4 separate regions of the Homo sapiens genome follow, and regions 2, 3 and 4 are each linked to region 1. The links come from fine-mapping of genetic effects on gene expression. A gene starts in region 1. Each other region holds a variant in brackets. All regions are shown on one strand. Distances are from middle to middle.

Region 1 (7,619 bases):
CGCGCGGCGCCCGTGCACGATGCGCGGGAAGAAGAGGGCGCCGCTGGGCAGCAGCAGGCGGTGCGCACGCGGATCCTCCCGCACAGTGGCCACACGCGCCCCGTTCTTGTACCACTCAATGTTGGGTCGGGGTCGGCCTTCAGCGCGGCAGGGCAACGTGGCGGGCTCGCCTCGGGAGACCAGCAGATCTGGCGGCTGCTCCACGATGCGGGGCATAGCGTCCTCCGGTCCTACCCTTGACCCTGGGGACAGGGGGTGGCGCAGAGCGTTCAGACAGGGAAATTGTGGGGAGAGATTGAGGCTCCAGAGGGAAAGAGAATCCTCTGGTCGTTCCATCTCCTATGCTTCTCTGCGGAGCTCAGTCCCCACCTGCCTACCCTCTCCCTCTGCAGGATCCAATATGTCCTTATTGGCAGACGTTCCGCGTTCCTCGTCTCAAAGGAAGATGCCTACAGACAGGCCGGTTAGTAGAGGGATCGGGACACAAACTTCTAGGCCGGCTTTCTGGACCACCTAGAGACCTCCGTCTCCTCTCCTGCCAAGTTTAAGCGGGAGTGGCTGAACCACGCTTGGCGAGTAGACCGCTCCCTCGCCTCCTGCCCAGTGGTTTCCATCTCCACCTGCACTGGTTCACGGATCGTCCTTGCTCAGTGAAAGACCATAAACCGTGCACTGGAGCCAACAGTTTGTTCTTGACTTCTGCAAGGTCCTGGCTCAGTGAAATTGGGAATGTGGACTGGCTTGGGATCCCTTATGAAAGGCAAGACGGGAGTGACAGGGCCGGGCCTAGAAGGGCTTGTCAACCTGGATTCTATGAATCGGCACAGGGCCCTTCTTACTGACACCCCGGATAATCACGCTTCATTTCAAGGGTCCTGTGAAGTCACAGGAATTGAACGCAAATAGCAGTAGAAATGTTAGTAAGGCTCCTTTTCCTGACAGGTGCATAGTTTCCAATAGATTATTCTACTGATTGATGTTCCTCTACTTCCCCTGTTCACTCCGATCAGTTCATCCACATATTCTGTCCTACCTGTCACTTGGCCTGCAGACTTTGGCCTGTTTCACCTTCTGCAGCACGGTTAGGATCCCGGAGCCTGTTATACTCCGGCACTCTCAGCCCCTAGTCCAGCCAACAAAAGTGGATTTGTAACCCGTGGCGGCCAGTAGGTGCCACTGCAGCCTTTAATAACCTGCTGTAAAATAACCAGGGACCACTTCAAGCATCTGTTCTGCCCCCTGCCCCCTCCCCCTGTTCCCCCCTTCCTACCCTGTTCCAAAATCTGCAGGAACCTCCCGCTTCCAGCCCGCCTGTGAGATTGGGTTTCATTTCCTGCCCCCCCTCTTAGAAGTTCTGTTGTAGACAAAGCTGGACAGGCTGACCCGTGCTGGCGCTGTTCTGAGTTTATTTTAATTGCCTGGAGTCAAGAAGATCGATTTCTGTCCCACTTGGGAGAGTAATTTTCTCCATCTCCTCCCTTCCAAATGGAAATCTCTGCTTTTCACCCTTCTCTTCTCCTCCATCTCCTCCCATTCCCAATTTTGGAACACCCCGTGGTGAGCAACACTGGAGTGATTGAGAGCAAGTGTTGCTGTTGAACCAACCAGGGCTGGAATCTCAGACTTTGACGCTTCCTAGCTGTAAGAACTTGGGCAAATTATTTAACTTCTCTCAGTCTCAGTTTCTTTCTTTGTGATGTGAGAGCAGTGATAGGGTTGCTCTAAGACCATAATGTATGTAAAGCCCTTGGGGGATAAACGTCACTACTCTGCCATTATTTAAGGGCTTGTGTTCCCAGCATATGCACCTTATCTTGGCTCCTACAGTCTCTACCTGAATCAAATTCTACCAGGCCCCAATATTCTTTTTTCCCCTTGGTATAGCCCTCAGGTGTAATGGAAATGGACTGATCTGTTATCGCTAGGTTTTGCTTCATGCTGCTTTTGTGACGATTAGGGCACCATTCACTCTATAAAGCGTTTTCTCGGCGGCAAAATGTGTCTGTCAACACCTTCCTTGCATACCTCACTAAGTTTCGAGCTTAGATGAGACAAAGTATGGTGAAAACACTCTGTAAACGCGCTAGGTGAGCAGAAGCGGGACTCTGCGGGGTGCCAGCGAGAAGGGATCTGTGCTTAACCTCCTGGAAATCTAGGAGGGTCAAGAGGTTGGAGAATCGGGCTCCTCCCCCATCGTCTTTCTCCCCAATCCTTCTATACGGACCACACCCTTCTGGTCGGCCTTTTCCCCCTAATTCCTGTAGACACAGCTGCAGGCGCCCTTTCCCTGGAATTTCCCCCTCTACCCTTCCCGGTCTCAGGAGATGCTTCGACTGCAGCCTAATGAATAGCTAATGGCCATGCTAATGAGGCTCTGGGGCTCCTCCCTCAGCACCTGATGTGCCCCACACATGAACACACACATATTGCCAGGGTCTCCTTTCTCTCCACCTTCGAGTCCCCAGCACAGTGCTCGTCACTAGACTCGAGTGGGTCGAGGCAGAGGGATGGGGACCGCGTGCACCTGGAGGGAACCACACGCGAAAGCGCCCGGTAAAGCGGGGGTTCCCGATGCGGCAGGCAGGGGGCGCGCTCCGGCCTCTCCGCAGGCTGGCGGCGGCCGGCTCCCGCAGCTTCCCCGCGGCGCTAGGGGAGAGCGCGCTGTCCCAGTCATTTATTAATCACCGTAATTAGCGGTAACGACCTCGCCGCCAGCTCCGCCCGCCCGCCACAGCTCTGCCGGGGTGGGCCGGCTGAGAGTCCCGCCGCTGAAAGACAAACTTCTAAGTTTCCTTAAAATGATCGCCGCCCCTATCCCCTCCGTAGCAAACACATCCAGCATTTTGGCTTCCTCTGGTCCTAAGTGAGTTCTTGGGAAACTTCGGGGTTCCGAAGACCAGCTGCCTGGGTGGGTCACCGAGTGACCTGGCTTGGCCGAGGCCGGCGGGAGACTGTGCCCCCTCCTCTGCCCTCCCTGCGCTGGGCCCGGGCCTTTCTTAGCTCGGACTTCCCTGCCCGTTACCAGCAACGGTTCTTCTCACCTGGGGTGGGCGTTGTAGGGGAAGGGAAGGAGGTGTAAAAAGACTCAGTAGCCATCTTCTCCCAAGCCCTCGACCTCCCGCGGGTACCCCCACTCATGTGCTCGAAGCTCCAAATTATCCCTTAGACCCCACGACCCAGGGAGGCGCTGGGAGGCGCCACTCAATCCCGGACCTCGGGACAGGAGCGCTTCTCCTTCCCTTCCACGCCGCCCTCTCACCTCATCCCCATCCCAGGATCCCATATCCCCAAGAGGCAGGGTCTCACCGTTGAGAGAGGGATCGCCGGGAGGCAGCAGGGTGTGGTTGAGCGCCGCCAGCGAGGAGTTGAAGCCCAAGAGCAGCTCGCTGGAGTTGGAGATGTCCCCGGCCAGAGAGTCCGCGAACAAGTTCATCTGCAGCAGCGTTTTCAGCAGGTAGCGCAGCATGGCTCGACCCAGCTGGGATCGGGACTGGGGGCTGGGGGCCCAGCCCCTGGGTCTGAGACCCGTGGGCTGGGAGCCGTAAGCCCCTCCACAGCCTCTGCGCGCTGCGGCAGCCACGGTGCCGCTCTCCTGCCGGTGCGCCTGGGTACGGTCGGTGCCTCTTCGTGCCCTCCTCCTTCCCTCGTCCTTCTCTCCACCCCCTAGTGCCGGAGTCCCCTGGGAGCTGGGCAGGCGGAAAGCAGGTGCCACGCCGATCACGGCGTAATTAAGGGATTAATCCGCCTCCCTCCACCCTCCCACCCTTACCTCTACAGTCACTATCCGAGCAGGAGACACGAGTAGCGTAGCGCGCGAGTTGGAGTCCCCGCCCCGCACCCCAAGCCCAGCGTTCCGTTCTGGACGCGGCGAGAGATTTTCCCTGTCTCAAAGCACCCAAGATGAGGGACGAGGCTCTGTCGGACTCTGCCCTTCTGCCCAACTTTAGAACAGGAATCTGTCCTCTCTTTTCCCGAACCTTTTGGAAACTGAGGCAAAGCGCAAGCAATGCTCCTTGCTGCCAAAGTTCTGGTTTCCATTCCCTCCCAAGTCTAGGGGTTTGGCGACGGAAGGGCAGGAGACTGGGGTGGTTTGCAGCAAGAGTTGGGAGTAGGCAGAGAATTCCAAGACAGGTCCACCTCTCTGCCCTCTGGTCCTTTGGTCTGCAGCCAGGAGGCCAGAGGATGGAGCGGCGCGCCCTGACCCGGGAGTCCTGCTCCAAACGCCCTAATCTAGGAGTTCCTGTAGGAGACTGAAAGCCAGGGAAACCCAGGCAACTGTCATTTATTTGAATCCTTTTACATTACCCTGCTTTGACATTTTTTATTAAATTGTTTTACGTTTTTGAGGAGACTGAAATGGAACCAAGGATTCTAGGACAAAAACAAAGATAATATTATTTTTGTAAAGGCATGTGGGATTGCTGCAAAATTAGTGCAAATCTGTTCAAATCGGATAGCAGTCGTCCTTCCTGGGGGGGGCGAAAAGAAAACCATGGGCCCCTACTCCCACCTCCCACTTCCAGTCGCGGTCTGCTTCTGACTTTTCTGGAGTTCTTTCTACCTGAAGACCCACCTCGACAAACTCACTTTCCTAGACAGGAGATGGCTTTGGGGTATCAGGGAAAGAGAGAGGCCGGGGCATTCCTAACCTGAGGTAAGGCCCTGCTGATTGAAGAGTCAGTGCCAGAGTTCTGGCTCAGCCGTCAGGTTCTGGGATGAGACAACTTTCATGGGGCGACTGCTTCTGACCCCAAAGGGGTCGAGATCAGAGGGGTGGGTGCTATACAGTCGCAGACTCTGGAGTAAGCAGAATCAAGAATTGAAATATTTCAGGCAGAGCTTGTTCAAGGGAACCCGAGACATTGTCAAGGGGTGGGGGGCTTGTTCCAAGCCTCCTTCCTCAGTCCAGGCGCCTGGCTGTGAGCCTCCAACTATGGGTGTTTAGGTGCCTTCCAACCCTAGCAGTTCTGGGCGGGACGTAGAAAGGCTGGAAGCACTAGGTGTGGGGGAGGGGGTAGGTGGGAGTGGGGGTGGGGCCGGATGGACCCCCCACCCCACCGCCACGCAGCGCCCTGGGAGCTGTCCTTTTCAGCACCTCATCTGCAGGTGCCTGACTAGGGCCCTGGAGCCCCCAGGGAAGACATAAATCCGAGCAGACCCTGAGGCTGAGGACTGGGGTAGGTGGGAGACGGGCTAGAGACACATCCTTTCAAAAGCAAGAAGATAATAAGAGATTTGACGCCCCTCCCTTCCTCGCTCCAGGGTGGTATTCAGATAAGAGAGAAAGTAAGGGATGTATTTCCCACCCGAAATCTATCCTTCAGGAATGACCAACACAGAAGTGGGTTCTAATTCTACGTTTGCCAAGTACAAGACGTCACCGCTTTGGATCTCAGTTTTCCCATCTGTTAAGGAGGAATTGGAGTGCTTGATCTACTCTGACCTGTGAGATTCGAGGCTCCGGGGCCCTTTGCTCCGCCCCCTGCTGACCGCGGTCACCTGGGTTCCATCACAGCAGAGGCTGAATCGGGATAGAAACCCCACGTCCTGGTACCAGGCCCTACTCTGGGGCGGAGGGGGCCAGAAACCCTCCCACCATGCGGCTCCTGCCCGGTCCTAATGCCCTGATTTGCTCCCGGCTGGCCTCTCCGCAAACACAGGGCCTGCCAGCGTCTAGGGGCTTGTCACCCTGTTAGCGGATTTGTTCCCGGAGACGGCGCAGTTAATTGGCCCTTTATGTGGGGATCAGGGCGTATTTGCTCAGGGTTCCCTGAGCGGAGGCGCGGCTCAACCCGTGAGCAAGGCTGCTTCACAGTCCCTGTCACGTGGGTTTGGAGGCTGGACAAATAGCCGGGCCACTCTACTTTCCAGGAATCTGCTGTCTCTCCTACACTTCACCTCGTCTGGGCTCTCTCTAATTTTCACTCTCCACTTTTTCTTGTTTCTCTCTGCTCTTTCCTTCTTTGTACTTCTCTTTATCTTGATGATACTCTCCTTTTAAACCAAACTCAGATCTAAGCCAAGAGGGCTGAGTTCTCCCAACTGGGGATATCAGAGAATAAATACCTCCCAACCATAACCTAAGTTCCCTCCCTTTTCCTTCCCATTCTCTAGTGTCCTTACGGCCCTGGGCTAGGCAGAGTGGAGCAGAGAGTGGGCAGAGAAGGCCCAGCAGAAGTCACACCTCCCAGCTCTTCTGCAGCCCTCTCCCCACCTTCTCTTCTTTACTGAGGGTCAGACAGGCAGCCTAGAAACTGGCCCTGCCCCTGTCCACATCCAGCTTCTCTCCTGGCTACCCCCATAGGCAGTTCTGAAAGGGGTTTGCCTCCTACTAGTCTCCTCACTGCCTGCTCTGCTCTCTGAAAATTACCAAGACAACTCTTTGTCCTTTTTCTGGAGTGGGTATGCAACTCTTTGCAACTATGTCCATTTCCTAATTTGTCAACTGTAAGTGCCTGTACAGCACCTAAAACACTGAGTAGATGCCCTGCAATTGGAGGAGCCTCAGCCGGGGTGCATTCATTCTGTTGACTTATAAATTTCCACCTTGGGCTGGAGAAAGAGTCAGAGTTGGGTTTAGAGACCCTCTCTTCTACCACCTCAGGAAACTACTTCTTTCCCAGAGTTTTACCAACAATATGTACAGTCCAGACTTTAGAAAGGGTAAGAAAAAGAAACAGAGGTTTTGAAGGAGATTTGGCAGAAAGAAGAGAGAGTAGCAGGAAGCAGGGAGGTTGGGGCGAGTTGAATTTGTAGAGTTAGGAGCTAAGTTTGTTCTGATAAGGTTACAGCATCTGATGGGAAGAAGTGTGTGTGTGTGTGTGTGTTTGCGTGTGTGTGCATGTGTGGGTTCACAGGTAGAGCCCTAGAAAAGAGCCCTGGGCCAGGAGTTGATGAGGTAATATAGAAGAGGAATATTTCTTTCCTATGGTGGTATTTTGGGTGGGTGGATTTGCAGAGGAACATGGGAAATGGGAAGGGCAAGTGATTATGAGTAAGGCAGGAACCCTACACAAGAGTGGTGTTTTGGGAATCATGAGCCTCTAAAGGAACTCTCCATCCCACCCCCCACTGGTGTGTGAGTGTGTGTGTGTGTGTTCACGTGCTAGGGGAGAGAACAGCTACCCCAGGCTAACTTTCTTGGCCTAGTGCCAGCATATCGGCCAGAGAATGTGGCTGGGAATTTTCAGTGGCCAAGCTGGGGCCATATGGGGAGGCTTCTTGGTGGTCTAAAGCCTGCATGCCGGCTGGTAGTGGATGAAGCTGCTGGCATGTAATTGCCCAGGAGTGCAGTCTGAAGACAACCCCCCATTACTACCACTGCCTCCCCCCAATGTACACACACACTGTCCGGTCCATTTGCATCCCCCCAGAGCCTGTAGCCTGCCATCACTCTCTGCCTGGACCCCTTCCCAGGACATTAATACATATTGAGTGTGAGATTGTGTGTGTGTGTGTGTGTGTGTGTGTGTGTGTGTGTTTGCTGGGAGGGGGACAAAGAAATAACATCTGCCCCTTACCCCCACTAGGGTATGCCTGTGAATGGCCCAGCAGGGCTGCTGGCTTCAGAGTGATGATGCCAGGGGGCAGCGACCCAGCCAGCAGGGGCCAGAGAACCA
Region 2 (7,619 bases), 190 kb before region 1:
TAGCCTTATACTCTGTCAAAAATGCTTCCTATGGTTCAGTATGAGACACTTGTGAGAAAGAAGCCATTTTACCCATCAAATACCAGTCCCTACTGCTAGTAAGTTCCATGACCACCCACAGGACTGTTGGGGTAGCCAGTTGGTGTTTTATGCCCTTTAAGACACGATAACAAGTGTCTTCCCTGTTTTCTTCAAAGGGACAGAAGGATCTGAATGCTTAAGAAAGTCTTTGAGGACAAATGACATGAGAATAAGCCACTAGGTAACAGAACTCCAAAATTTTAACACATCCACAAGCATCATTTTTTGAACACATTTGCCTCCTTCCACTCCTGTCTTACTAAACAGAGAAAAGCATATTTTTTGGTAATACAATCAAGACCAGTCTTGATCAAGGGGGTAAGAACTGGGATATTAGGATAAATTGTAATTATTCAATCTTTTAAATATTCAATTTCATAGTAGGCCTTTTGATGGAGAGGCGGAGTGGTGCAGTAAAAAGAACATTGGCTTGGAGTCAGAACCAAGCCTGGTCAAGATACTTACTACTTCACTAAGCCTCAGTTCCCTCCTCTGTAAAATGTGTGTAACAGCACCCACCTTACAGAGTGCTGTAAGAATCAAAACATATGTGCATACAAAAAGTACAACAGTGCCTGGCCATATTAAATAGGTTTTGCAAATGGAGCAATTATGTGTGCAGGAGCTAATATATATGGTATTAGGGTCAGATATTGACTGCAGCTGACAGAAACCAATGACTGTCATAAATGAGAACAAAATATAGGGGTTAAAGGATCAAAATTCTTAAAAAGGATCAATGGGTATAACAAAATATATTTTTGACTGCAAAATCCTTAATATAATGTGCTTGTGTGTGTATCTGTGTATGTGTGTATATATATACAACTTAACCCACTGAGTTATTGTAAGCTTTGTGGTAATACGTGCTGAATAATTTGGGGTTCACAAGGATGTATGTATGGCTTGAGTAGAGTGTCATAAAAATGAAAGAAGTTATTGTCTTAAATATGTTGGATGCTGAAATCTCACTAAGAATTACTACTAAATTCTTCCCAGCTAACAGTCAAAAGATAGATAAGCAAGGTGACCAAAGGTATTCAAAAATATCTTATTTCTCAATAGAAGTCAAACTTCTGGAATGCTTAGCAAAGAACATCCCAGCCCTTATATAACTGGCCAAAAGTAGGGTTTCAATGTACTGAAGACTAGATTGATGGTTCATAATGGCCTGAAGAGTGGGCTTTGGAGACCTATCAGTCAACCAACAGGGCAGCCCTGCTTTCAAATGGTCAACCTCCTTAGGATACCAGTAGTGACAACAGGTATATACAAAGACAGCCTGACAGCCAGTAGTCCTTAGGAAGAGAGGAGAAGGATGAAGAAATGGTTAAATTATGAAAATTTCCCAAAGTCACCTTGTTTAGAGGAAAAATTAAAAGGAATATATGGTAATGACAAAAGTGAGGTAGTCTCAGCCTGGTCACACAGCTGGGGACAATGTTTAGTTGTTCTAGTATCTGAAAGTAACCATTCATTTACTTGCTTAATAAATATTTGTTGCCTGTAATCCCAGCACTTTGGGAGGCCAAGGCGGGAGGATCACCTGAGGTCAGGAGTTCAAAACCAGCATGGCCAACAAGATGAAACCCTCCTCTTCTAAAAATACAAAAATTAGCCAGACATGCTGGCACACGCCTGTAATCCCAGCTACTCAGGAGGCTGAGGCAGCAGAATCGCTTGAACCCAGGAGGCAGAGGTTTCAGTGAGCCGAGATCGTGCCACTGCACTCCAGCCTGGGAGACACAGCAAGACTCCGTCTCAATAAATAAATAAACAAACAAACAAACATTTGTTAAGTGACAACTATGTGCCAAGCACAGTGCTATGTGCTGAGGATACATTAATGAAAAAGACAGGCCAGGCACGGTGGCTCACACCTGTAATCCCAGCACTTTGGGAGGCTAAGGTGGGCAGATCACCAGGTCGATCGAGACCATCCTGGCTAACACGGTGAAACCCCATCTCTACTAAAAAAAAAAGTATAAAAAAAAAATTAGCAAGGTGTGGTGGCGGGTGACTGTAGTCCCAGCTACTCGGGAGGCTGAGGCAGGAGAATGGCGTGAACCCAGAGGGTGGAGCTTGCAGTGAGCCAAGATCGCGCCACTGCACTCCAGCCTGGGCGACAGAGCAAGACTCCGTCTCAAAAAAAAAAAAAAAAAAAAAAAACAGACAGACACAGTCCCTAATCCCAAAGAATTTACAGTCAAAGGGGACAGAGATGTATAGAGATAATCCCACTTCAAAAGCTTGGCAGAAGAGATCAACTCAAACAAGAAATAGGTTATATAAACAAGAAAATGTTCATGCTGATATGGTGGCACTGATCAAATAACTCCAGGAGAGTCTCAGAAGGCTTACTGTAGACAACATAAGAACTAGATTTGAAGAACAGCTTAGTGCATACCAAGTGAAGAGGAGAAAGGTGGAACCGGAAAATTGCATGTGCAAAATAAGGAACCATGAAAAAGCATGGTACATTGAAGAAATGGTGCATAAGACATTCTTTGTAGCTGGTGAGTACATGTGCAAGGTGGGGAGCTGCAGAAGATATGACTTATTACATGTGGTGAGATAGTGAAGAACCTTCAATGTCAACAATAACAGGTTGGAACTGTATTCTTTAGACAGTTGGGTGCTATAAGACAGCTTTAAGGGTGAAGACAGGATCAGATTTATGTTTTCAGAGGAGAAATGGCCATTTAACAGGGCTTTGTCAGACTTCCAGTTCTGGATGAAGATAGAAGAGATACACTTCTCTCTATTCTTCTTGCTAGGTACCGTTAAAAACCATTGACATTATATATAAAGCAAGCATAAGAAAACTCTGAAAAGTGGAGAGAAGACAGATCAGCGAGGGACCTTGAGATCTAAGGAAAGACAGTGGTGAGTTATCTGGGTTTGCTCTTGGCTTCATATATCCCGGACTGGGTGCTGAAGAAGCCAGCAAATCCAGAAGCACCAATGACACAGACAGAACACCAAAGCTCTCAGAAATGCTGGCTCTGTCTAGCCACAGGACCAAGGAAGGGGTAGCGTGGCAATAACCACCCTGCTCCAACTAAACCTCATAGAAAACACTGCAGCCCCACCCCACCTTATCAGCAAAGGCCAGTGGGGAACCTAGACTTCCACTTGCACCTGGCTGTAATGAGGGGTGCCCCCCCGCCCACCGCCTGGCTGGTGTCAGAGAACTCCAAGTGGGAAAGCAGGACTTTCACCACCTTCCAATGGTAAAGAGCGCCCCACCCCAACCACCAAGGTGTCATGGAGGTCACATGGGGAGCAGTAAGGAGCCCATACAGGGCGATATCAATGGAGGCCTAGTGGAGAGCCAGAACTCCCACCCTTTCAAGCAGTAATGAGGTGCCCTGCCCTGCCTCCCCGAACCAGGGATGTTAACAGAGGTCAAATAGGAAACCTGGACTTTCACCCCCCGCCACCCCTGGCAGAGTAGATAAAAAACATTACCCAAATACATGCTGTCACTTTCCTAAGAAACTAAAATACACTTACCATACACTTATTGTGCTCCTGGGCTTTTATCCCAGATAACTGAAAATTTCCATCCATACAAAAACCTGTACATGAATTGTCCATAGCAGCTTTATCTATAATAACAAAAAACTGGAAACAACCAATATGCCCCTCAATAAAGTTAAACAAATTGTGGTACATTCATACCATGAAATACTACTCAACAATAAAAAGAAATGAACTATTGACATAATGGCATTATGCCAAGTGAAAAAAAATCAATCTCAAAAGGTCACATACTGTATGATTTCATTTATATAACAATCTCAACATGACAAAATCATAAAAATGGAAAAGGGATTAGAGATGGACTGGAGTTAAGGAAGGTGGTGGTTGAG[AG/G]GGGTGTAACTTTATAGGGGTAACACAAGGGAGGTCTTTGTGGTGACAGAATAGTTCTGTATTTTGTTTGCATTGGTGTTTACGCAAATCAATGCATGTGATAAAATAGCAGACACACACATACTGTACTACGGTTATGTCAAATGTAATCACTGGGGAAAACTAGGTAAGAGGTACCAGGACGCCTCTGAACTGTTTTTGTAACTCCCCGTGAATCTATCCTTAGTTTATAAAAGTCTTATATATATAAAAGCTCTGTCAACTTTAATTTCCTTTTAGTAGTTCTCAGTTTTCTAATTCCAGAAACAGGATGGGAGAAATTTACTTTTTAAGTAGAAATCTTTCCTTTGGAGAATATGCTATGGAGCAGCATGGTCAGCTGCCCATATTAACTCAAGTACCTCACTAGCAATACAGATTTCAGTACTGTGCCTTGGATTCCAAGTTACGATACTCGTTTTTTTTCTTCAACTTTTAAGCTCAGGGGTACATGTGAAGGATGTGCAAGGTTGTTACATAGGTAAATGTGTGCCATGGTGGTTTGCTGTACAGATCATCCCCTCACCTAAGGATTAAGCCCAGCTATTCCCCCTGGTGTTCTCCCTCCACACCCAGCCAGTGCCACCCCCAGCCCCCACCCCGCCTCTGACAGGCCCCAGTGTGTGTTGTTCTTGCCATGTGTCCCTGTGTTCTCATCATTCAGCTCCCACTTGTAAGTGAGAACATGCAGTGTTTGGGTTTCTGTTCCTGCATTAGTTTGCTGAGGATAATGGCCTCCAGCTCCATCCATGTTCCTGCAAAGGACATGATCTTGTTCCTTTTTATGGCTGCATAGTATTCCATAGTGCGTATGTACCAAATTTTCTTTATCCAGTCTATCATTGATGGGCATTTGGGTTGATTTCATGCCTTTGCTATTGTGAATAGTGCTACAATGAACATACCTGTGCATGTATCTTTATAATAGAATGATTTATATTCCTTTGGGTATATACCTAGTAATGGGATTGCTGGGTCAAATGGTATTTCTGTCTGTAGGTCTTTGAGGAATTGCCATACTGTCTTCCACAATGGTTGAACTAATTTATACTCCCATCAGCAGTGCAAAAGCGTTCTTTTTTTCTCTGCAATCTTGCCAGCATCTGTTGTTTTTTGACATTTTAATAATAGCCATTCTGACTGGCATGAGATGGTATCTCATTGTGGTTTTGATTTGCATTTTTTTAGTGATCAGCGATGTTGAGCTATTTTTTTAAACGTGTAACTCTGCTTTTATCGAACAGCTTCATCGGCACCTCTAGACGGCTAGGAGATAATACTCCTCCCTACTACTCAGACAAACAAATTTAACTTGCAGAGAACAGACATGCCTGGTTCACACAGTGATGCTGGTGGAAAGATGAGACAGAAGCTCTCCCCAAGGGCCACTCCATTTGTAGAAACAGATTCCTTCTTATCATTTGGGACTAACCTCTGTCCCTGTGACCAATTAAGCCTATGATAGGCTTAATTAAGCCTAAGATAGGCTCAAGGAAGTTGTGGGAATGCCTCCCTGCCTTACACTGCTCCTTAGGTCTACAACTAGGAATGCATTCTTATTGTAACATCGTGAAGCAAGAGGAATGAAACAGGGAGAACAGGTTGAACAAATGAAAATGGAAATGGGTTTAGAAATCAAAAGCATGTGACTTCAAGAAGAACAATCATGCCTTTCACAGGCAAGGACTGAAAGGTCTTCAAGTGAAGAGTTTTATTAGTAAGATTAAAGAAGGTCTGAATAAACAAACCAGCACTACACAATAAAGACTGAAGATATCCCTGCTGCCTCTAGATGTCTACAGCATCCCCAACAGGTAAGCTCCAGATCTGGAAAAACTCAACTCTTTCATCTGCTTTGTCCCAGCAAAAACTTCATCCTAGAATTTCCCTACAACTCTGTAACACTAGCCTGAGAGCCCTGGCTCCTAGTACACTGTTGGCATTCCTTATTGTAAAATATACGAAGAACAGGCTACAAGAGTCAGGAATCAAGATCAAGATGGAAATTTCTGGGAAAAGAGTGCTGATCCACTCTACCTTCTTAGAAACTCATTCTCAAGCCCAAATGTTTCTTTCTTCAAAATTAACATCCAAATGTTCACTGTATGCCAAAGCATGCCTTAGTAATTTCTATTTTCTTTCCTTTTTTTTAATTAAAATAATTTGTTTTAGAGACAGGATCTTTCTCTGCCACCTAGGCTGGAGGGCAGTGGTGCTATCATAGCTCACTGCAGCCTCGAAGTCCTGGGCTCAAGTGATCCTCTCATCTCAGCCTCCTGGGTAGCTGGAACTACAGGAATGTACCATCATGCCCAATTAATTTTTTTTTTTATTTTTGCCTTTTTAGAGATAGGGGCCTCGCTATGTTGCCCAGGCTGGTCTCTACCCCTGGCCTCAAGTCATCCTCCCCCCTCAGCCTTGGGATGACAGGTGAGAGCCACCATGTTCAGCTTGTCCAGTATTTTCTGATCACTGTTACTAAACCTTTTCTCCCCCTTCTTAGTAATGAATTGAAACAAGTACTTCCTAGTTTATGATAACAGAGTTTCAGCTAGAGAGAAATGGACATGCCCAGATATCTCTAGAAAAGCCAGAAAACACTTCAGTTTCTTTCATGTTATTGTCTTATCAAGTCCTCGTCTACTGCACAGAATGAAATTTAAGGCACGCACACACACACACACACACACACACACACACACACACACCTCAAAATTTAACAATCCAATCACGTTGAAAACAGATGCACTATGAACAAATACACAGTCCAGTTAACAAGTATTTTAAAAGTTAAATCTGAAATTCCTTATGAAAACTTCCAGCAATGTAAACTGAAGGAGACTTTTGTGGTAAATTAAAATGCTTACCGTACTTATAGTTAGATCCAATCCAATGAGACCGGCCTTATTTTGTGATCAAGCATAGTCTTTCTTTCAGACTATTTTGATCGAAATGGGAGAGGATGTAGAAAAAAATTTATGTTTCAGTGGAAAATAATGTATTGTCTAGAGGACACCCCTCCAAAGTGACCTGATTTTAGCCTAAAGTTCTCCTTGGTTTAACAATTCTGCAAACTGTAGATAAATATGAAAAACATCAGTTTTGCCTCCATTTGCACATCCAATCCAACATTCTTTTATCTATATAAATTTGTGCATTTTTTTCCTTTTTTCTTGGAACCAGTTGAAACATCTACTTATTTCCCTCATGAATTAAATGTTTAATGCACGTTCATTTTTATATCTGTATGAGTCATGATCTTACCTTTTTATGAAAATTATCTTTTAAGATATATAAACATTATCATATAATTCAGAAAACCTATATGCTAAATAGTTACAACTAGTATACTATATAATTGGGCAGGAATAATTGCTTCCGAGTGAGAGAAATCAGGTTAAGTGTTCACAGACAGATGCTACTAGTACTTTGCCTTAAGAGTTATTAGAATTTTAAGACTCAGAATTTGAAGAATATTTCAGGCAAACAAAAGGCCTGTTAATCCTAAGGGACTCTCATGGTAATGGACCTAGCCAGCTTTTAGAGTCCCCAAGGAGAGGCCAGACTCAGTCCCGTGTGATTCATGCAGGGGCAATACCCAACTTGGAACCAATCCCAGTGAA
Region 3 (7,619 bases), 27 kb before region 1:
GAATTCAGCTGGAAAATGTGACACTGCTGAACCCGGATCCTGCAGAGGGCCCCAAGCCTAGACCGGCGGTGTGGCTCAGCTGGAAGGTGAGGACCAGGTGCTAAGGGTAAAAGCCGATCCAGAGCTCAAGAAAGGGCGTTCCTGAGCTCTCTGACCCCCCGCCCTTCCTCGAAACTCCTTCCCAGGTCAGTGGCCCTGCTGCGCCTGCCCAATCTTACACGGCCTTGTTCAGGACCCAGACTGCCCCGGGAGGCCAGGGAGCTCCGTGGGCAGAGGAGCTGCTGGCCGGCTGGCAGAGCGCAGAGCTTGGAGGCCTCCACTGGGGCCAAGACTACGAGTTCAAAGTGAGACCATCCTCTGGCCGGGCTCGAGGCCCTGACAGCAACGTGCTGCTCCTGAGGCTGCCGGAAAAAGGTCAGGGCCTGATCCCTTCAGAAGCCAACAATATCCCCTCTGGCTCCTTCTTATTTGGGGGCCCCTGGACTGTTCTGCTTCAGTCTTGAGGGGAGATTATGGGTCCTACCCTGGGACTCCCTTCTGCCCTGGCCAGGCCAGCAGAGCTTCAAGAGGCTTCTTGTCTCTTCAGTAGGGTTCTGACGCTGTGTCCCCCAGCCCAGCTCCTTTCCCTAGAGTCCTCTCCCTCAGAGCCCCTCATAGTCTCTCTTCCACCCCTCCAGTGCCCAGTGCCCCACCTCAGGAAGTGACTCTAAAGCCTGGCAATGGCACTGTCTTTGTGAGCTGGGTCCCACCACCTGCTGAAAACCACAATGGCATCATCCGTGGCTACCAGGTACCCCCACTAGCTGTCATAGCCCTTCCTACTGCTGCCAGGACATCTCTTTTCTCTGGAGTTCTGCATACCCTTGCTCTGGGCACTGAGAAAGGTACCTGGGCAGAGAAGCAAAGGAAACCTGCTTTTGCTGAGCAAGGACCCACTGGCTTCCAGACCCTGCCAAGCACTTGACCTCCATGATCCCGTTTTACCTCACAGTCCACCCTGGGGTATTATCCCCAATTTACAGACATGGAAAGTGGGGCAAAGGCCACAGGAATAAGAAACAGAGTAGATCAAACCAGGCTGTGAGTCAGGGAGTGGGGCTCAAAGTTTGACTTCTAGAGCAGCAACATCAGCCTCACCCAGGACCTTGTTAGGAATACAAACCCTCAGATCCTTTCCCAGGCCTCATAAATCAGAAACTCAGAGATGGGCCTGGCAAACTGTACTATAGCAGGCCCCCCTGGTGACTTGGAAGCACGCTGTTGTTTGAGAATTGCTATGTTACATGTGTTTTAGCAGCTTGCTTGTGCCCTTCTACTGTTGATCTAGAGAGAGGTATCTCTCACTTGGTAGGGAGAATAGGAGGGGAATAGGAAATTGGGTGCATTCCCCAAGTGGATGGCAGGGCAGAATAACCACACCCCTGGAGTCTGATCTGCAGATAAAGGGCTTGGCTTCTGGGATGGTGCCTGGGGAAGCTGTTCACCTCTGCTTGTGCCTCAGGTCTGGAGCCTGGGCAACACATCACTGCCACCAGCCAACTGGACTGTAGTTGGTGAGCAGACCCAGCTGGAAATCGCCACCCATATGCCAGGCTCCTACTGCGTGCAAGTGGCTGCAGTCACTGGTGCTGGAGCTGGGGAGCCCAGTAGACCTGTCTGCCTCCTTTTAGGTGAGGGCAGTGCCCACAGACCCACCCTACCCTTCAGCCTGCATCCCGCCTTCCTCTCTCCCTGCTCCCGCCTCACACTTCCAGCTCTTCCCCCTTGCCTGCCAGGCCCTCAATGCCTCGACTCCCTCTCCCTCTGAGCTCTGCATCCCATACAGAGCAGGCCATGGAGCGAGCCACCCAAGAACCCAGTGAGCATGGTCCCTGGACCCTGGAGCAGCTGAGGGCTACCTTGAAGCGGCCTGAGGTCATTGCCACCTGCGGTGTTGCACTCTGGCTGCTGCTTCTGGGCACCGCCGTGTGTATCCACCGCCGGCGCCGAGCTAGGGTGCACCTGGGCCCAGGTGAGAGTCTGAGGGGGACCCACATGTATACAGGCCTCCTCAGCATCCAGCCAGAATGGTGCAGGGGCTTTGGATCTCTGACCAGGTGATCCAGCCTCTGGATTTAGCTTTCCTCCTGCCTTCTCCCAGGTCTGTACAGATATACCAGTGAGGATGCCATCCTAAAACACAGGTGAGAGGTGAAAGGGGAGGTCTGAAGTAAGGGAGGGTGGCAAGGGACAGTGGAGCTGCAACAGAGAAGAATGGAGTACTAGTCTACCTGCCAGGGAGTTTGGGACTGTCGTACATGAATCTCTCCTGTAACTCCAACTGATAGTTCATTTCTCTGTCATTAATATTCCTATCACACCACTTGACAGACTAGTAAACTGAAACTCATAAAACCTTCTAAACCCCCAATCCAGGACTCTTGTCACCCCACCTCTCCTGCTGCCTCACCCGCTAGGTGGAGAATAATCAGCATGAGACGACCACCTCAAATGTCTCATCTTATGCGTGCACCCATGGTCTACCAAGTAGTGCCTTTGCACTCAGTAATTCTCTCACTGAGCCATTGTGCCTACATCATAGTCCACCCGCAGCTCCAGCAGAGGGTGTTCAGTGCCTACATCATAGATTCTTCCTCACTGTTCTCAAAAACAGGATCTGCCCATGGGCCCTTCTGCTTCCGGTATATTCGGCTGCCAGAACAAGTCTGCAGTTCTGGGACATCATGCTGATAGAGAACACATCCTTCTTGCTCCCGTTGTCTGAGTTTTGTACTAAGTAACCGCCTCATCTCTCTGTCTGCCTTCTTGGCTCTTTATTTCGCTAGATCTCCTCTGGGAGGCTTCCCACTCCAGGTCTGCATCTATCCACAGAAGTTACTGAGCACCTACTATGTGCCAGCAAATCCAGGCCTAGAGCTGCCATTTCACTGTCAGGTCCTCAGCCCAGAGCAGGGGTCCAAGCTGGCTGGTGTTGTGTTTTGAGTTTTCTGAGCTCACTGGCTTCTTTCTTCCAGCTACCTCCTGGCTTTGTCTGCTCTGCCTTAAGCTTTCTGTGGCTTCCCTAGGATCTCCTGCTCTGTCCTTGAGGGAGATTCCTTCTGATCTTTGGTTCATTCTTTCCTTTGGAATAGCCTCCACCTGCCAGAATCTCTCAGTGTAGGCAGAGACAGGCATGAGGGGATATGAGTGCAATCCTGTATTGGCCACGCAGAAGCAGGTACAAGA[C/T]ACATGGAGGGGGTCAATGTGGAAAAACATAGGAGAAAGAAGATTCCACATTACCCTGACAGTAAGAAGGGGATGGAGAGAAGAGCAATGAAGCAGCAAGTAATAGCCTGCTATGTCCACAGGGAAAGACAAACCATTTGTTCTGGCTCGGGTATAGGGTGTGAGATGGGTCAGAGCAAAGGCTATAGTTAGGGAGCTGGAAGCCAGACCAAGGAAGGTCCTCTTAGCCATGCTAGGTACCTGGGCTCTATCATGGTAAATGAGGGGCCATTGAAGGTCTTACGCAGAGAAGCTCCTTGCTCAGATCCCTGTTCTTGAAGGATCACTCAGGCAGCCAGAGGCCAATATCCATGGAGCAAGCTCCTGCTCTGCCAGCTGAGTGATCTCACATTTCCTCATATAAACCCAGACCATCAGTCTTGAGTGTGGAAGGCCCTATTGCCATCATTTTACAGATGAGAAAACTGGGGCTTAGAGAGGATGTACTTACCCAAGTGCAACAGATGTACTTACCCAAGCTAAGCTGTGACAGATAGAGATTGTCAAACCAGATTTGTCTTCAGGTCTTCTTTTTACCTCAGCATACATAGCTGTCTGTCATTACTACCTCCCAGCTCTGGGTGACTCGGATTTCCCCTCATCCAGGAATAAGAAAGGGGTGCTGGGTTTAGGGGACCAGGTCAGAGATCTTAAGGAGTCTGTGAAAAGCTGAAAAGCAGTAGTAAGGATAAAGCCACCATCTCCTTGCCCTCTTCTGCTGCCTCTGAACAGGAAGTCTTGGCCAAAAAGGTTCTCACTTCTCCCTGTTTCTCCTGGCCTCACCCCCTCCCTCCACTGCCCCAGGATGGATCACAGTGACTCCCAGTGGTTGGCAGACACTTGGCGTTCCACCTCTGGCTCTCGGGACCTGAGCAGCAGCAGCAGCCTCAGCAGTCGGCTGGGGGCGGATGCCCGGGACCCACTAGACTGTCGTCGCTCCTGTGAGCATGCTCAGTGGGGGCAAGGGCCTAGCTGGGGGCAGTGATCTCAGGGATGGAAAGCAGGACATGCTCACCATAATTCCTCCTGTCATTTATGTCACAGTGCTCTCCTGGGACTCCCGAAGCCCCGGCGTGCCCCTGCTTCCAGACACCAGCACTTTTTATGGCTCCCTCATCGCTGAGCTGCCCTCCAGTACCCCAGCCAGGCCAAGTCCCCAGGTCCCAGCTGTCAGGCGCCTCCCACCCCAGCTGGCCCAGCTCTCCAGCCCCTGTTCCAGCTCAGACAGCCTCTGCAGCCGCAGGGGACTCTCTTCTCCCCGCTTGTCTCTGGCCCCTGCAGAGGCTTGGAAGGCCAAAAAGAAGCAGGGTAAGGAGGGGGAGAATAGACATAGACTGAGCTGGTGGTAGGCGGGCCCAGGAATGGGAATGTGATGGGAACAAGGCCTCAAAGCCTGGAGGGGCGTGCAACCTCCACACCCTCCTTCCATTCTCCTCTCCAGGTGGACACAAGACCTCTTTCTCCTACCACCAGAGCACTCAGCTAGGGGTGCAATAGCCTCAGCTTTTTGCACTGTGCTCTTGTTTCAGTTTGGCTACACCAGCAGTGAGCCCTAATTCTGCACTCAATTCAACTCAGCAAACGTTTAATAAGCACCACTGCATGCCAAACATGGGGAACACAAGAGACGTCAGACACAGCCCCTGACTTCTAAGGGCTCAGGGCCTGTCTAACGAAAGTGTTGACTAGCAAACAAGTAATGCTAGAGCCTGGGGGAATGTGACCAGTGCTGGCACAAAGCCTCAGGCTCCCACGAGCTCATCTCCTGGTGTACTATGTACAGGTGTGCTTGGGCACCGACTCCCAACTCACTTCTCAGAGAGGAATGGGTATTTCCTTTCTGGACAGGTTTATCTCCTGACTCCCAGCTGCATTCTTAGACTTTTCAGAGAAAAATAATTATAGCCTCCATTTTTTATCAATTGCTATATACTAGGTGCTTTACTTATGTTTGTTATTTCATTTAATCCTCACAATAGATTGGCTAGCTACTATTTCTCTAATTTTACAGACAGGAAGAGGGTCAGAATGATTGAGTTACTGGTTCAAAATTCTGCAAGTAATTAGCTGCAGGACTCAAATCTGAAGGCAGGATAGTCTGCCTCTGAAGTGATTCTGAGTCTCTCTGGAGCTCCCTCAGGAAATCCTATTCTCTCTTTGAGTATTTTTTCCTATTTCTGGCCTGCAGAACATTGGCCTGCAATCTACCTGCTGTCTTCTTGAGTCTTCTGTACTAATTAGTAAGACCTAACAAATGTTCTACAGCCAAGTCTTTTTTTTAAGTGGATTTAATCCAACTTTTAATAAGACAAAGATGGATTAAGATAATTAACAGCTTGTTCAATATCCAGAATTTTATGACTGTAAATATCAGCGAAGCTGGCATTCTTACCAGCTTTGCCTCAGAGCTATTGCATTATAAATCCTTGGTGGTAACGAAACACCAGCTAAAAAAAAGGTGGAATAGTCTCATTTAAAAAACAGCCTTCCCAGGGAGAACTACACCAACTTTAATGGAATGGATAGCCCCTCTTAGAACAGTAATGCTACTGGAAAGAGGTGAGTGGTTTTCTACAGCCAGTTCTTAAGAAGGGTTCCAATTCTGAGATGAGGCTTCCTAGCCTGTGGTTTAGGTCCTTACTTCACTCCCTGTTTCTCCTCGCTCCAGCCCCATCTCACCACTGCCCCCAGGATAGGTCAACTGCAGCGACTCCTTGGCTGGTAGACACTAGATATTCTACCTCTACCTCCCAGGACCTCAGCAGCAACAAGATCATGCTATGGTCTTCTCCAGACCCATGGAGTTGATTCTACTGCTGTTTCTTCCTCTTCTAAAACTGGCAGGCTCTCCCAGTACCACCCACTCCCCTTGACCTGCTTGTTCCTTTTTCTTATTATTTGGCCTTAGTTGGGGTTTCTTCTCCAGTGCTGATATCCTCACAATTACAGTCTCCTGTCTCTCATCCATCATAGCAGGTTCTTAGTTCTGCTCAGTTTGCCAGATATATGCACTGAATATCCTCATTCATTCATTATTTTATTCAAACAAATATTTATTGCAATTTGACCAATGAGTTTCAACCTTTCACCTTGATAACATTTTTCTTGTCCAGTTTATTCAATTAGAATTGAAACTAAAGTCCAAGTAACTCCAAGCAACATAGGAGGAGGGCTTTTGTTACCAGAGTCCCTTAGAGGAAGTGAAACAGGCTAGGATAAAAGTGGCCTTTTCCAGGCCTGGCTGTTTTCTTTCCCTTTCCACTCAAACCAGCCAACCAACTTGTGCTCATATTTCTGAGCTTAGTCAAGAAGCCAGGCACCAGACAAGACATAGCTGATGATAGCAGAGTTGGTGCACCAACCCTGAAGTTGGCTCCCCAGATTACCTGGGTCATATGAAAGCTATAGAAAATCAATAAAAACCAAACAGCCAAAGTACCAAAGGAAACTTTGACGGAGGGAGTCTAGTCATTGATGAGTTTTCATCCTAAAGGATCAGAAGGTCTGGCCACTAGTACATAAATGGGGTCTTGGTCAATGCCAAAGCCTGGCTCACTTCCCTTCTCTGAAGCTGCCCGTAGTGGCCCCCAGATCTCTGATATGTGACTGACTAGATAGCTCTACCCTGAAGGTCCTGCCTGGTCCCTGGTCCACCAAGAGGGGAAACTCTTTCCTAGCTGGGCTTCTGGTCATGGGACACTAATCTAAAGGCTGTTTCTTTTCTCCTTTGTCTGATGTTCTTCAGGTTCCTGCTCCTGGAAAAATCTCTCTCCTGTATTACCCTATTCCTCTCTGGCTTAAACTTAGATCCCTTTTGCATTCTGGTCTGACCAAGAAGCATGCTCACAGGTCATTGCACATAGTTAGGGCTGTCTCTTTAGTTTCCAGCTTCTCTGTTGTGAAAGTTCACTCAGAGCCCTGTCTCTCCACTGCCCATGTGGGCCAGATGACAGCTTCCATCTTCTAGGTGACTCTTCTCACTGTGTGTTTATATCCACATTTCTGATATCACCCATGCATTCACTCTTTCATTCAACAAAAAGTATGGGCAGGGCATTGCGTCCCTGGGATAGACCAATACCTTTTCCCACTCTGAAGTTCCTCTTCCTATTAGCTGACTGTCTCCTGTCACAGCCAACATTGTGTGTCGATCCCTGTTTTTGTCCTACCCACTCAGCTCAACCTGACAGTCTACCCCATCTTTCAAGTGAGAGACAGTCGAGTTTCCCAGAGCAGGGCTATCCAGAGCCATGTGAGATATTTGCAATGTGAGAAATGGAAATTAATAGATTCTGTCCAAGAAAAGAAGGAGTATTTTTCTTACTGAGCCAAAATTCATGAGAGTAGCAATGTGA
Region 4 (7,619 bases), 51 kb before region 1:
CGAAAACTAGACCAAATGAGGAACTGTTTTAGCTCATCAAACTCATATATTCCTCCTGGCTTCCTTACAAAACAAGCCTTTCAAACAATCATTGTCCTCAGGAAAGTTGTTGAGCTTCCTCCAGCTGTGAGAATAAGTCCTAATCTCCAGAGAAATGGTGGGGGGAGGAGGAGGCTTATTGCTTCCCAGCATTTGGGGGGAACATGATCCAACCCCTGGCCTCCTGCCACCCATCTGCCCTGCTCCCACATGCTCAGGTCCCAGGGCACAGAAAAAGGGCAGACTCCCTAATCACACTAACATCAAAATAAAGAGGCTGGGCCGCTGTGTAGCCAGGACATGCCCATGCCACCGCCTATTGAACAGTTCATAGGAGTGGCAGTAATCTACTGTGTGAGGAGAGAGGGCAATTAAAAAGCTGAAAGAGAAGGAGGCCCTCTGTGTATTCCATTCCCTCCTCCTTAATGCCTCCAAGGGTCCTTGCATCCCTAGTCTCCTAAACTCCAGCTCTGATTCGCCATCAACCCATGGAGCAATTCCAAGGCCCCAGTTACCCATCACCTCCACACCAGGTCAAGTTTTGTCTCAGCCCCAAAGGCACTGACATTTCTAGTTTGCCCCCTCTGCCCTGAACCCCACAGCATGCCTGTCTCAGCTCCCTGTCCCTCGGCACTTCCCCAGGCTCATTTGAGCAGGTGTGCCTTCGCAGCTCCCCTAAACTTCCCAGGTGCCTCATCCATAATGAGATAATGCATGTAGGGGAAAAGTTTCTCAAGAAGGTGGAAGAGGCAGCAGGACTTGGATAAGGAGTACCTGCTGGTCAGCCTTGAGATGCACAGGTGAAGGTTAGGGTGAGATGAGAACATGCCATACCCTGGTGCTGAATCCCTGAGGGGCCAGCTTGCCAGGCTTAAGCCAAATCTGCCTTAAATTGGGGGTGGGGAGGGGTAAGTAAGGAAGTGGGGTTTGTTTTTGTGTTGTTTTCATCTTCATCTTTGTATTACTAGCATCCAGCAGAGTGCCTAGCACATACTGGATGCTCAATAAACTTTTGATGAAATGAAATGACAACTTTATTCCACATAAACAAGGGTAACAAAACAAGCTGCTTAAATATACCAGTCATTTCTCTTCTTCTCCTTTCACCTCCTTTACCCTCTTTCCAAACCCCAAATTGTCCGTTCCAAAATCACTTACCCGTTCATTCATTTACTTATTCAGGTGTTCTTTTATTTATTCGACAAACATTTGTTTACCTACCATGGACTAGGCCCTGTGCTAGACACTGCTGATACAGCATAACTATGTCAGGAAGACAGATCAGTAAACAGATTACAATATAGTGTGTAAAATGCAATGGCAGAAGTAGATACAAGGTGCTCTGGGAGCATGTAGATTAGATGTCAGCAAAGGCATCTTGGAGGAGAACAGACCTGAGTTGAGTCTTTCTTAGAAAGACTTGTTAGTTAATCTGGTTTTTAAAAGTATGAGAGGACACACTCCAAGCAGAGGGAGAAGCATGTATAAAAGCTTGGAAGTGCAAGACACGATGGGGGGGAATTCAGGGTACTGAGCCTAGCAGTTGATGAAATTATTTCAGGAAAGTATACAAAGTAGAAGGTGAAGAAAGCTGCAGATAGATTTCTGAGGCATCAGTATGTGTAGAAAATTTAAAAGGACTTCACCAAGAAGGCTTAAAAGGCACAGCCAGCAAGATAGGAGAATATATAGGAGATAACTATATCACACAATCAAAAGAACAAGAGAGTTTCAAGAAAAAGGGAGCATTCGGGACTACAAGGGCAGGGGGCTCACATATGAAATGAAGTTAAAAGTGCATGTTAAATTTGGCAACAATGAAAACATTGAGTGACTTGGCATAAGTAGTTTCAGACATGTAGTAGGGGTTAAAGCCAGATTGCAACAGGTAAAAAGTGATATGTGGAACTTCTCTGCTAAATACTTGAGACTAGATGTTTGAGAGGTCTTCCTGTTTCAAAACAACTAGGTCTTGCTTAAATGATATTTGTTTTGCATTGCTGGCTTCAAGAGATGGGGGAATTTTTTTTTTTTTTTCAGACAGAGTCTCATTCTTGTCACCCAGGCTGGAGTGCAATGGCGCAGTCTAGGCTCACTACAACCTCTGCCTCCTGGGTTCAAGTGATTCTCCTGCCTCAGCCTCCCGAGTAGCTGGGACTACAAGCACGTGCCACCATGTCCAGCTAATTTTTGTATTTTTGGTAGAGACAGGGTTTCACTATGTTGGCCAGGCTGATCTCAAACTCCTGACCTCATGATCCGCCCACCTTGGCCTCCCAAAGTGCTGGGATTACAGGCATGAGCCACTTCCCTGCCAGAGATGGGGGAAATTTTTAAGCAGTCAGAAGTAAAACAAAATTTAAAAGCACAGTGAGCTCAAAGTACTTAGCACTCATTAAATATGAGATTACCAAGGGAGGTGAAGCAAGATGGCTGAATAGAAGCCTTCACTGATTGTCTTCCTGCAAAAACACCAGATTGAACAACTGTCCACACAAAAAAAGCACCCTCATAACAACCAAACATCCAATGAGTGATCACAATACCTGGTTTTAACTTCATATCACTGAAAGAGGCACTGAAGAAGGTAAGAAAGACAGTCTTGAATTGCTGACACCACCCCTCCCTCATCACCC[G/A]GCAGCTGCCGCATGGAACAGAGAGAGAATCTCTGCACTTGCGGGAGGGAGAGTGCAGTCATTGTGGGGCTTTGCATTGGAACGCAGTGCTGCCCTGTCACAGGGAGAAACAACACCAGGCAGAACTCAGCCAGCACCCACAGAAGGAGCATTTAGACCAGCCCTCGCCAGAGAGGAATTACACATCCCAGTGGTTGGAACCTGAATTCCAAAAAGACTCACGACCATGGGTTAAAGTGCTCTGGGGTCCTAAATAAACTTTTAAAAGTCTGTCTAGGACACAAGGACTGCAATTCTAGGGGGGATTCCTGATGCTGTGCTGGGCTTGAAGCCAGTGGACTTGAGCATATGATCTAGTGAGACACCAGCTGGTGCAGCCAAGGGAGTGCTTGCATCATCCCTCTGCCAACACCAGGCATCACAGCTTGCAGCTTTGAAAAAGACTCCTTTCTGTGGTTGGAGGAGAGGAGCAGGAAGAGTAAACAGGACTGTGTATTGCAACTTGGATATCAGCTCAGCCACAGTAGGACAGGGCATAAGACAAGCTCAGCCACAGTAGGATAGGGCATAAGACAGAGTCCTGAGTCCCCCATTTCAGGCCCTAGCTCCCAGACAACATTTCTAGACACCCTGGGCCAGAAGGGAACCCATTGGTTTGAAGGGAATGACCCAGTCCTGGCAGCATTCATCACCTGCTCTCTCTAGAGCCCAAGGGCCCTCAATAATTTGCAATAGAACCCAAGCAGTACTTGCCATTGGCCTTGGGTGAGACTAAGAGACATGTTGGCTTCAGATGTCACCAAGCACCTTTCCAGCTGTGGTGGCTATGGGAAGGGGCTCCTTCTGCTTGAGAAAAGTTGAAGGAAGGATAAAGGGGACTTTGTCTTGCAGCTTAGGTACCGGTGTGGCCTCAGTGCGGTAGAGAACCAAGTGGGCTCTTGGGGTCCCCAATTCCAGGGTTTAGCTCTTGTATGGCATTTCTGGACCTGCCCTAGTGGCCATAGTGGAGCCCACTGCCTAGAAAGGAGAGTCCTATGCTTAGCAGCATTCATAAGCTGACTCAAGAGCCCTTGATCCATGAATGAACATCAGCAGTAGCCAGGCAGTATTGACCATGGGCCTGGGGCAGTGGTGACCAAGGGAAGAGACACCTCTGCTTGAGGAAAGGAGAGGGAAGAGTGGGAAAGACATTGCCTTGGGCTTGGGTGCCAGCTCAGCTGGAGTAAAATAGAGCACCAGGTAGATTCCTAAAGTTTCTTACCCCAGGCCCTGGCTCCCAGGTGACATCTCTGGACCTGCCCAGGACTGGTGGAAACTTGGCACCCTGAAGTAATGGATACAAGCCTGGCTGGCATTGCCACCTGCTGACTCTAGAGCCTTAGGGCCTTGAGCGAACATAGCTGGTAGCCAGACAGTGGTTACCACAGGCCTTTGGTGACACCTGGTGCTGTGCTGGCTTCAGGTCTGACGCAGCACAGTCTCAGTGATGGTGGCCACAGGGATACTTGTGTCACCCTTCTTCCAGCTCCAGGCAGCTCAGCACAAACAGAGAGAGAAGGAGAGAGAGAGAGAAAGGGAGAGAGAAGAGGAGAGGAGAGGAGAGGAGAGGAGAGAGAGACTGCTTGTTTTGGAGAAAGAAAAGGAAGAGAATAAGAGTCTATGTCTGATAATCCAGAGGATTCTTCTAGATCTTATCTAAGACCATAGGGTGGTATCTCTTCAAGTCTGCAGGAGCCACAGTGTTACTGGACTTGGGGTGCCCCCTAATGCAGATACAGCTGCAGTCACCAAAAACTAAATCACAACACCCAAGTTCCTTTGAATACCTAGAAAGCCTTCCCAGGAAGGAAGGGTGCAAACAAACCCAGACTCCAATGAACATCCACAAGCATCAAGACCATTCAGGAAATATGACCTCACCAAATGAACTAAATAAGTCACCGGTGACTAATCCCAGAGAGACACAGATGTGTGACCTTTCAGACAGATAATTCAAAATGGCTGTTTTGAGGAAACTCAAAGAAATTCAAGAGAACACAGAGAGGAATTCAGAATCCTATCAGATAAATTTAACAAAGAGATTGAAATAATTTAAAAGAATCCAGTAGAAATTCTGGAGTTAAAAACTGCAAGTGAAATACTGAAGAACACATCAGAATCTGTTAATAGTGGAATTAATCAAGCAGAAGAAAGAATTAGTGAGTTTGAAGACAGGCTATTTGAAAATACACAGTTATAGGAGACAAAAGGAAGAAGAATAGAAGAGAATGAAAGTATGCCTACGATATCAAGAAAATAACTTCAAAAGGGCAAATCTAAGAGTTTTGGGCCTTCAAGAGAAAATCGAGAGATGAGGGTAGAAAGTTTATTCAAAGGGATAATAACAGAAAACTTCCCAAACCAAGAGAAAGATATCAATATTCAAGTGCAAGAAGGTTACTGAGCAGATTTGACCCAAATAACATTAACTCAAGACATTCAATAATCAAACTCCCAAAGGTCAATAATAAAGAAAGGATTCTAAAAGTAGGAAGAGAAAAGAAACAAATAACATATAGTGGAGCTTCAATATGCCTAGCAGCAGACTTCTCAGTGGAAGCCTTGCAGGCCAGGAAAGAGTGACATAATATATTGAAAGTGCCAAAGGAAAAAGAACTTTTATTGCAGAATAGTATGTCTGGTGAAAATATTATTCAAACATGAAGGAGAATTCAAGACTTTCCCAGACAAACAAAAGCTGAGAGATTTCATCAACACCAGACCTATCCTATGAGAAAGCTAAAGGGAGTTCTTTAATCTGAAAGAAAAGCACCTTAATAAAAAATAAGAAATTATCCGAAGGCACAAAACTCACTAGTAATAGTAAGTACACAAAAAGACAGAATATCAAAACACTGTAATTGTGGTGTGTAAGCTACTCATATCTTGAGTGGGAAGACTAAAAGATGAACTGATCAAAAATAATAATTACAACTTTTCAAGACATAGTACAATAAGATATAAGTAGAAACAACAAAAAGTTAAAAGTAGGGGCATGATGTTAAAGTGTAGAGTTTTTATCAGTTTTCTCTTTACTTGTTAGTTTGTTTATGCAATCACTGTTAAGTTGTCATCAGTTTAAAACAACAGGTTATAAGATATTATTTGCAAGCCTCATCGTAACTTCATATTTGGAAACTTACAACAGATAACACGAAATATAAAAAGCAATAAATTAAAACATGTCATCAGAGAAAATCACCTTCACTAAAAGGAAGACAGGAAAGAAGAAAAGAAGAAAGAAGACCATGAAACAACCAGAAAAAAAAGTAACAAAATGGCAGAAGTAAGTCCTTACTTAACAATGATAACATTGAATGTAAATAAACTAAACTCTCCAAACAAAAGATGTTGAGTGGCTGAATAGGTTACAAAATAAGATCCAACAATTCGTTGCCTGCAAGAAACATACTTCATCTACAAAGACACATATAGGCTGAAAATAAAGAGATGGAAAAAATATTCCATGCAAATAGAAACCAAAAAAGAGCAGGAGTAGCTATACTAATATCAGACAAAATAGATTTCAAGACAAAAACTATAAAAAAAGACAAAGAAGGTCACTGTGATGGTTAATACTGTCAACTTGATTGAATTGAAGGATGTAAAGTATTATTCCTGACTGTTTCTGTGAGGGTGTGGCCAAAAGAGATTAACATTTGAGCCAGTGGACTGGAAAAGGCAGACCCACCCTTACTCTGAGTGGGCACAATCTTATCAACTGCCAGCGTGGCCAGAACAAAAACCAGGCAGAAGAACGTGAATAGACTAGACTGGCTTAGCCTCCCAGCCTACATCTTTCTCCCATGCTGTATGCTTCCTGCCCTCCAACATCAGACTCCAAGTTCTTCAGCTTTGGGACTCAAACTGGCTTCCTTGCTCCTCAGCTTGCAAATGGCCTATTTTGGGACCTTGTGATTGTGTGAATTAATACTCCTTAATAAATTCCCATATATGTATTATATATTATATATCTAATATATATTATATATCAAATATATAATATATATTTGATATATAATACATAATATGTATTTTATATATTATATATTATATATAAAATATATATTATAAAATATATATTTTATATAATATATAATATAATATATATTTTACATATTATATATAATATAAAATATATATTATATTATATATTATATATATTTTATATTATATATATTATATATAATCTATATTTTATATATTTTATATTATAAATTATATATAATATATATTTTAGATATTATATATAATATATATTTTAGATATTATATATAATATATATTTTATATATTATATATTTTATATTTTATATATAATATATATAATATATTTTATATATTATATATTATATATTTTATATATTATATATTATATATTTTATAGATTATATATATTATATATATGAAATATATAATATATATAATATATATTATATATATGATGTATATTATATATATTATATATATTATATATTATATATATGATATATATATTATATACATATAATATATATATTAGTTCTGTCTTTCTAGAGAACCCTGAGTAATACACATTTTGGTACCAACAAATATTAAGGATGGAGTTCTTTTGTTGGTTTTGGGGTTTCTGGAGTTGGCTGCTAAATATGATTAGACCCCAAAATGCTAAGGACTCTACTTCTAATAGTATGGAGAACACTAATAGTCCCTGGCATGAGCTGTTTACAGAGTTATGCAAAATAAGTGCATTTGACACTCCTGATTCACTGCTCATGAGAGGCAAGGAGTTTAGTGACTCTGTACATAATAACTTTGACCATATGTGGAGAACCAAGGAACATAATGAAGTTGGTTGGTTGCTCCTAAGTTCACTGGACAAAGTGATGAAAGAAAATTGTGAACTCAGAGATTCTAACTCCTGGCT

What was found. PIP is the estimated chance that this variant, and not a neighbour inherited with it, causes the effect.
Region 2: its variant is the best candidate, but not a certain one, in a credible set for the expression of ROBO3 in monocytes (TOPMed, PIP 0.51).
Region 3: its variant is the best candidate, but not a certain one, in a credible set for the expression of ROBO3 in subcutaneous fat (FUSION, PIP 0.62).
Region 4: its variant is the best candidate, but not a certain one, in a credible set for the expression of ROBO3 in tibial nerve (GTEx, PIP 0.58).

What each region holds. Positions count from the first base shown.
Region 1 is chr11:124,861,425-124,869,043 of GRCh38, reverse strand. ROBO3 (roundabout guidance receptor 3) reads right to left here and starts at 3,612. Exons shown (of 28, transcript NM_022370.4): 1 at 3,307-3,612; 2 at 1-242. The coding sequence starts at 3,466. RefSeq lists enhancers at 40-570, 2,620-3,296, 5,636-6,137.
Region 2 is chr11:125,053,469-125,061,087 of GRCh38, reverse strand. No RefSeq gene overlaps it. Among named protein-coding and RNA genes, the nearest start is that of SLC37A2, 6.0 kb to the left of the region's middle. The variant AG/G (reference allele first, on the strand shown) is at 3,957.
Region 3 is chr11:124,888,252-124,895,870 of GRCh38, reverse strand. ROBO4 (roundabout guidance receptor 4) reads left to right here. Exons shown (of 18, transcript NM_019055.6): 5 at 1-86; 6 at 186-414; 7 at 678-790; 8 at 1,502-1,670; 9 at 1,826-2,011; 10 at 2,141-2,183; 11 at 4,069-4,205; 12 at 4,309-4,572. It overlaps LOC107984406 (a long non-coding RNA gene), which reads right to left and starts at 4,072. Exons shown (of 2, transcript XR_001748429.3): 1 at 3,739-4,072. The variant C/T (reference allele first, on the strand shown) is at 3,226.
Region 4 is chr11:124,912,690-124,920,308 of GRCh38, reverse strand. HEPACAM (hepatic and glial cell adhesion molecule) reads left to right here. Exons shown (of 7, transcript NM_152722.5): 7 at 1-1,104. HEPN1 (hepatocellular carcinoma, down-regulated 1) reads right to left here and starts at 1,059. Exons shown (of 1, transcript NM_001037558.4): 1 at 1-1,059. The coding sequence starts at 558. The coding sequence ends at 292. All of the region lies in intron 1 of LOC107984406 (a long non-coding RNA gene), which reads right to left. The variant G/A (reference allele first, on the strand shown) is at 2,676.